Homo sapiens: one gene and its partner. The protein of the gene in region 2 purifies or fractionates together with the protein of the main gene of each other region. This does not show direct contact. Each region holds a gene or a part of one and is shown on either strand. Other genes may lie near its edges.

Region 1 (3,806 bases), on a different chromosome or scaffold from region 2:
CACGATACTCGGCTTTCAGCTCCTGGGCGGCTGCCTGTAGGAATGACGAGGGAAGTGAAGCCAGCGGCTGGGGCAGGAGAGCCAGGGCTGAGAAACAGCCTGGAGCACCTGGGGATCCCGCAACAGCTGGAGAGTGGCCGCTGTCCACCCTGCAGGAGGCCGAGGATCCTCGTTCCACCCACCTGCAAGGTCGACACAAACTGAATGGTGCTGACCAGGGCAAGGGCAGTGGCTGGGGGAAAGGTGAGGCGGAGAGAGTCCAGGAGGTGTGTAGTGTCTATCCGGATGTCCACAAAGACGTACAGCACCCGGAAGTCTTGGGCCGAGGTGTCCATGGGAACTGTGGGAGGGAGGAGTTCAGGGGCTGTTTGGGAAGGCAGGAGCAGCAGAGGGCCCGGCCAGGCTCAGGTCTCTGAGCAGCCAGGCGCAGTGGCTTCAGCCTGGGGGTAAAAGGACAGGGTAGGAGAAGAGGGGGGTCACAGATCCCCTAGAAGCTCCTTCTCAATCAGACTTCTCTGTCACCCGGCCGGGGCCCAGCCTGCTCTACAACCAACAGCCTTTCAAACACCTGCATCTGGGACAGAGCACCGTTGCCAAGGCAACCAAATCCAAAGGAAAGATCTACCTGCAGAGCGGGAAGGCAGAGGCCACCCCAGAAACCAGGAGGGACCTTGTGTCTCCAAGCAGGACAAGAAGGCACTGCCATGGGGAAGATGAATGTGCAGCCTGCCTCCCTGCCAGCCCCGCCACCGTCCAGGTGTCCTGGCCCCACCATACTCAGGCAACTGTGGCCGTAGTGCACCAAGAAGTCAGCTCCCAGGGCCCTCGCTGTGAAGTCATCCACACAGCAAGCCCCGTAGGTCACGTCACCCATCACCATCACTTCGGCCTCCGTGAACCTGCGGGCACAGGGGCGGGGAACGGTGGGACAGGGACACAGGGACTGAGGTAGGAGAGACCCAACCCTGGGAGGGTGTCTCAGGGCCCAGCTCCTCTCTCCCTACCTCTCCCAGTTCCTCGGGATGGCAGCTGCCACTTCTGCCAACAAAGATTAGGAGGGGCACAGCTGCCGCCTGCCCCAGCCTGGCAGCCGCTCCTGGAACTGTTGCTGCGTGAGGACCCTCATTCCTCTACCCAGGCTCAGGCTGCAGGAGGGACCCCAACCCTCACTCCGGCACACGTGGGGTCAAAACACAGACGCCCCATGCCCTGACTCACCCACCCAGAGCCGTGAGCACGCACACACACCCAAAGGTCCTCACTCCCGCGCTGAGTGCTGTGGTGGGCATGGGCGTGGCTGTATGAATACACACAGCCTCCCTCTTGCCGGGACCCCCACTCCCTCCCCACCACAGGCAGGGCCCCCACCCCCTCCCCACCACAGGCAGGGCCCCCTCACCCGGACCCCCACTACCTCCCCACCACAGGCAGGGCCCTCTCGTCCGGACCCCCACTACCTCCCCACCGCAGGCAGGGCCCTTGGTGCCCAGGATGGGGGGACCCAGGCACAGCTCCCCCATAGCACATGGCACCACCTACACGCCTCCTGCATCAGGAAGAGGAGGCTCTGGCCAGAACACTGCCGTGGGAACTGCTGCCAGGCCTGAATCACTGGGGGAGGGGGTGGGTGGGGAAGACCTTGTACCCCTGAACTCACCCTAGGAATGGAGGAGAACCCCCTCTTCCTTGAAAGAGACTCACACTTGGGGCGTGGAGCCTGGCTCAGTGACTGGGGTCCCCCCATCCTTCCCCTGGGGGTGTGGCAGTGGAAGAGTTGAGCTCCTGCTAGTCACCCCCTCCTCCACCCCCTTCCCCAAATCAGGCTGTGCCCAGAAGCAGATTATTCACCTCCTTAGAATGCAGCCCAGGCGTCTAAGTCAGCCACAGCACTTAATTTTTTATAGATTAAAATGTATGCAAATTGGCCTGAGCCCCAGAGAGCATCCCCAAGGGGCAAGACGGTGGGAGCAGGGAAGTGAGTCTGTGGCAACAAGATGGGGCAGCAGGGGAGGGAGGGCAGCAGCAGGGGAGGGGGATGGGGCAGCAGCAGGGGAGGGGGATGGGGCAGCAGGGGAGTGGGGGAGGAGGGGAGGGGGCAGCAGGGGAGGGGGGAGCAGGGGAGGGGGAAGGGGGAGTAGGGGAGGGGAATGGGGCAGCAGGGGAGGGGATGGGGAAACTGGGGAGGGGGATGGGGAGCAGGGGAGGGGAGGGGGAGCAGGGGAGGGGGAAGGGGAGGGGAGAGAGGGGGAGCAGGGGAGGGGAAGGGGGGAGAAGAGAGGTTTGGGGGAGCAGGGGAGGGAGGGTGGCAGCAGGGGAGGGGGATGGGGCAGCAGGGGATGGGGGAGCAGGGGAGGGGGATGGGGGAGAAGGGGAGGGGGAGGGAGGAGCAGGGGAGGGCGATGGGGCAGCAGGGGAGTGGGAGGTTCCCAGCATGAGATGACCTCCCCTTTCTTCGTTCCCCTCCCCTGTTCCTGTGCTGGTTCCAGATGGCTGAGCTCTCACCCTCCCCACCAAGGATGGCTCATTGTATTGCAGAAACTTAGAGTGACAGGGGTAGGATGTAGAGGAACTGAATACCTTCTCCCAGGCACCTCCCACTCCAAACCCATCCTTGCCCTACTTCCCCAAATGTGCCCGAGGAACAGGTGCCCCCCACCGCCCCCGACCGGCAGACCTCCCACTGATCACTCAGCGCATTTCAGGGGCAGCTTGGAGAATTCTTAGGGTCCTCCCCAGGTCCTACCACCTGCTCTGGGTCTAGCTTTGAAGACACTGGGATTGATTTCTTTCTCTGTCCCAAATGTTTAGGGGAGGGGGGATTTGCAGGGACAAGCAGGGCTCTCAGCAAGCTGGGAGATTTGTTTTGGGTTTTCCCTGAGTGTGTGTATGGTTGTGGGAGGGAAAGGGGGAAGGTGGAGGTTCAGAAGGAAAAAATGCCCGCCACCAGGGCTTTACCCACCCGGGTAATGAGCATAGGGGGTGGGGGAAGCCTGGCTCACCCTCCTCTCCAGTGCCCCAAGCCTCACCTTTCCAAGATATCCACAATGGTACAGGCAAAGAGGAGGAGGCCTTCCGGCATTTGCAAGGCCACTGCAAGACGAGCAGAGACATGAGAGGTGGAGGGCTAGGAAGGGGCTGCAAGGGGGACACTGTCCCATCTGGGCCAGGCAACCTCTCCACCCCAACCCCAGCTCAATGATCACAGGCTCACCCTTCTTGGCCTGGGCTTGTTGGATCCTCCAGATGGTCTTGGGGATCTCAAAGTTGTAGTTGGAAGGCAGGACCCGGATTGCTGCCTGCAGCTGAGGGTTCTTCAGGATCTCAGGGGGGATCTGATTGGCCACGCGGCCCCGAGGGGCCCGACCTAGAATGGATATAAGGCCTGAGTTGGTGTCTGTCTTTGGCTGAAGCCAGATTGAGATGGAATAGGGATCCCTTTTCAGGGCCTGCCGGTGCCCCCGCTCAAGCATAGAAATAAAAATTTTGAGTCATCTCAAGAAAAATCCCAGGCATCTTAGCTAGCCCTACAACCAGCAATTAGGGAATTAAATAACTTGCTAAACAAGAAGATAATAAACAACAGTCACCCAAGTCAGAGTCACGAGATGCCTGGTTCCCTATAGAAACTACACATAACACCTTGACATATATCCCTAAGTTGTTTTTCAGAAACCAGGACACCCACCCCCCCACCAGGTGAAAAATGCCAACTAATTGCTGTCATGTAAGACCTCAGACAGACTGAAGCCAGAAAATAGGTAAGAAAGTTCCAGAAATTCCCCAGCCCTTAATTCACTTTAAAGATC
Region 2 (3,806 bases):
TCTACCCCCACAAGCAGAAACGCTCGACGCAACGCCGGGAACATGTCTTTATTAAAGATGCAAGCAAGCACAGAAGGATCATGTGTAGTGCTCAGTAACATCCATACAGTACTAAAAATAGAAAAATATAAATGAAATTTCACAGAAAGCAGCCTCCCTCACAGAAACACAGGCAAGGTGCTGCCGAGCCCACCATGCGATGCCACGTGCCACCTGCCTGGCCACGCTTCTCCCCATTACAAACAAAAACACAAGCTTCTCTCTACACCCGTTTCAAATACAGCACCAAGAACGGAGACCCCTTCCACAGCAGCGACCCTCCTGACCACCACTTTGGGTGCTTTCCAGCCACATAAATGACAGACAACCCCGGTCCCCACGGGGTTGGCTGGCTACTGGCCCCCGACTCTCCATCGCTTCAGCGAATGTGGGTGAGAAAATTAGGCAGTGAAGCAATAAAGACCTCACCTTTACTCCCTCAGATACACGGAGGGATGAGGTGGACAGACACGCAGGCGGCCGTGCCAACCTGATCCGAGTGAAACAGGGCTACACTCGCAAAATGGTCCTCCCACGGCTGAGCGCCTCAGGTGCACAGAACAAACTGAATGATAAAGACCCGGGGATTTTAGAAATTTACTATTAAGCATCTGCTTGCCAGCATTAGTAGGCTATCACTTCAGGAAACAAAGTAAGGCTGTGGAATTCAGCTCAAATTCCGAGCGCAACTCGGTCCTTTGGTGGCCGACTCTCCACCCACTGCATGCAAATGCTCCTGACTGCATTAGACTCCCACCTGCCAGCCTCACCAGGCAGACTTCCCTCAGCACATGCTCCGCGGGCTCCTCTGCATTGGGCCTTTGGAGCCGCCCGCTGGAAGTCTCTGGCAGAAGGACGTCCATTCTGAAGACCTAGTGAACAATTTCTGCTCATTTCAGGAAGGTTCTGAAGAAGTGAACTCCGTCAGAATAAACAAGTGTCCAGATTCCCCCCAACAGACCCAACTCATCCTCTGTTCTCACCACTATCTCAGAACCAAGTGAGAACAGAATGGCTGTGCCTTAGATAATAAAACTACAAAAATAAAGAGTTAACCCTGAGATCTTTCTACCATTCGGGTGTGGCTCGCTCCTGATTCCCCTTGGAAATGAACTTTTATTTGGTTTACTGACATTTATGTAGATTTCCAGTGAAAAGCTCTATAAAATACAATAATACGGGGTTGAAAAGGCAGACATTCTAGTTGCATATATTACAGGCTTTATCCTTACGGTCCAGGCCATTGGAACTGCAATGTGGAGACTGTTTGTAATCAGACATGGAGAGGCTGCACGTTCTAAAGGCGAGACAGCTGCTTTCGGTTGGGAATCATCACACTCCCTCCGCTCACGCCGCTCTTCCCTTCCCCCGCTGTTTCACACGCTGCTTCCAGAGTTTGTCCAGCAAGGAATAAATGAATGCATACAGGACTTTTGGCTAGTAGACTGTCTGGGTATTGTGAGCATGCAGGTTGTTGTTTCTGTTATTATAAATAAAAGTCAAACGTGAGGTCACACTTTCCCATCTTCTGTTTATACACCAAGTCAAACTTCTCATTCATGGAGACGGTGAAGATGTCCTTCCACAGCCCAACTCTTCCTGAAACGCAAACAAGAGAACTGCTGGGGCCACTTGCTGTCCGGCCAGCTACTGAACTAAAGGAAGCCTTGGAAATGGATCTGGAACATTCCAGATCTATTCCTGGATCCCTTTGAACTTGGCCTATGGGGGCAGGAAGGGCCGTCTGAGCTACAGACCAGGTGGTCCCCTAACATTTGTGAAACTACTGGATGCGGCAGAACATGACCTGAACCAGCTTCCCTCTGAGGCTGTGGCACAGTGAGCCACAACCACCTCCTGGTGCCATTCCACACCCCCCGCTGGGGCCCACCAGGGAGACTCTACTCCTGTTCAGTGCTGGGTCCCCAGCACCTAGAACGGCACCTGGCACGTGGCAGGTGTTTAATAAACATCCCAGGAGCGAGTATGATCTGCCGCGGGAGTGCACTGCTCTGGGCATCACAGGCAGCCCTGGCCCTTCCCACGCCATTATCCACTCACAGCTCAACAGTGCCACCAAGGCGTCATTGGCTTCGGGAGAATTTGAAAAGGAAAAAAAAATCATTCAAAGTGCAGAAAATTTTACACTAAGTAGGAAGCCCTCCTGACTGGGCCAAAGATGCAGATTTCAAGAAGCCTGCCCTGGCAAACCCTGGGGAGGAATTTAAAGTGAATCAAATAGTCGCAGCATTAGCTAGCTTTACAGACTAGATGCAAAACATGCACTGCAGTGAGAATTCCCTGAGTCAACAATAAAATGAGTCTGGGCACAGCCCCCAGCTGCTCTAGCCCAGGCTTAGTCAGAAACCCAGACCTCTTCCTGGCAGCCACAAGGGAGGGCTGAGCTGTGGGATAAACTGCAGGCACCGGTCTACGCTGGTTTATGAAGGCTTTGGAAAAACGAAAGACAGCTCAACATGACAAGAGAAGTTGTTGCTCCCATTGTCTTTGTTAATATAAAATCTTAGGTTGGTCTAGTCCAATAGCAACGGTGACCGTGAAGATGTCTGGGGCGGGGATTCCAAACTTCCCAGTTATGGGAGCTGTGAGCACATCACCCGAGTACTGCCTCCCTGCTTTTGAAGAACTGCTCGTTTAGAATTCTTTCCATTGTCAGCTCTCTGAGATCAGAGCTCTGTCTCCAGCAAATGTCCTTCACTAGCTCCGTTATTAACAGCGGTCCTTGTCCAGGCAGGACCTCAGGTTTTTCAAACTGCAACCCTGCAAATGCTGAGCTAAAATACCCAACGTAACACGGACTTTCTCTTTGGTAACAAAAAATTATCAGTGTTGGAGAGAAAAACAAGAAAAATTATTCTTGTAACCCTTTAATGATACCTAAGGGGCAAAATTAGAAGCTGCTAGAGCAACCAAACTATTTTTCCATGATTATTTTTCTCAGCTGAGACAGCTGAGAGCTCGTCAGAGGAGTCACCCACCTGGTTTAGGATTTGGAATCAAGACAATTTATGCTGTGACATGAATCAAATCTAAGCAATGCAGCTGGCTACTCGGCCCTGCATTCTCACCAACTCAAGAAGATCTTCCGAGCAAAGACGCAATGTGCTAAAAGAAAACAAATCAAAGAACTGAAATAAAGCAAAACCAAGGTAAACCATGATAAAGCAAACCCAAGGGAAGGAGCATATGGGCACACAGTATGTTCTCGACGCTGCTTCACCACACACACACACACACACACACACACGTGAACCAAAAGGGGTATTTTGGAGAAGGTCACATCCAAGGATAACAAAACACAGCAAAAGCAAAACTAAAAAAGAGCAAATAAATGTTAAATAACAAATATTTATGAAAATGCAGCCAGGAAAGAAGTCGAGAGGGACTGTGGTTCAGTTCACTTCCTCCTGAGGAGTCCACTGCTCTGCCTTTATAAGAGACGGCACTTTGCACTTGACCTTCAAACCGCCCTTAGCCGTGATCAGCCCCTTTTCAGAGAAGAACAAAAAGCCGCAGAAGCTGAAGGCCTGACCTATGTTGCGTTCCCAGAGGGCAGCAGAGCTGAGCTGGAGCCCAGCGCGTCTCTCATCCGCCCCAGGCATCTCCCACTCCATCTTGTGGGGCTGCTGCTGAACAGAGCCATCCACGTTTCTGGGCCCTCCCTGCAAACATTCTCAACCCAGGAAGTGCCCAACACACCAAGTGTCCATCAGGTTCATACTTACCAACAGGGGGCCTCCTATGGC

What was found.
Region 1: the proteins of SULT4A1 (region 2) and DPH1 purify together in Homo sapiens (affinity purification with mass spectrometry, with the first as the bait; one large-scale study listed by BioGRID). This does not show direct contact.

What each region holds. Positions count from the first base shown.
Region 1 is NC_000017.11:2,033,063-2,036,868, reverse strand, and holds part of DPH1 (2-(3-amino-3-carboxypropyl)histidine synthase subunit 1), read right to left. Parts: intron 3,365-3,806; coding exon 3,212-3,364; intron 3,091-3,211; coding exon 3,027-3,090; intron 900-3,026; coding exon 778-899; intron 341-777; coding exon 183-340; intron 35-182; coding exon 1-34. UniProt on the Homo sapiens protein: Catalyzes the first step of diphthamide biosynthesis, a post-translational modification of histidine which occurs in elongation factor 2.
Region 2 is NC_000022.11:43,824,476-43,828,281, forward strand, and holds the end of SULT4A1 (sulfotransferase 4A1), read right to left. Parts: intron 3,166-3,806; coding exon of another isoform or gene 3,125-3,165; exon of another isoform or gene 3,039-3,124; intron 1,639-3,038; coding exon 1,526-1,638; 3' UTR 34-1,525; downstream 1-33. UniProt on the Homo sapiens protein: Atypical sulfotransferase family member with very low affinity for 3'-phospho-5'-adenylyl sulfate (PAPS) and very low catalytic activity towards L-triiodothyronine, thyroxine, estrone, p-nitrophenol, 2-naphthylamine, and 2-beta-naphthol.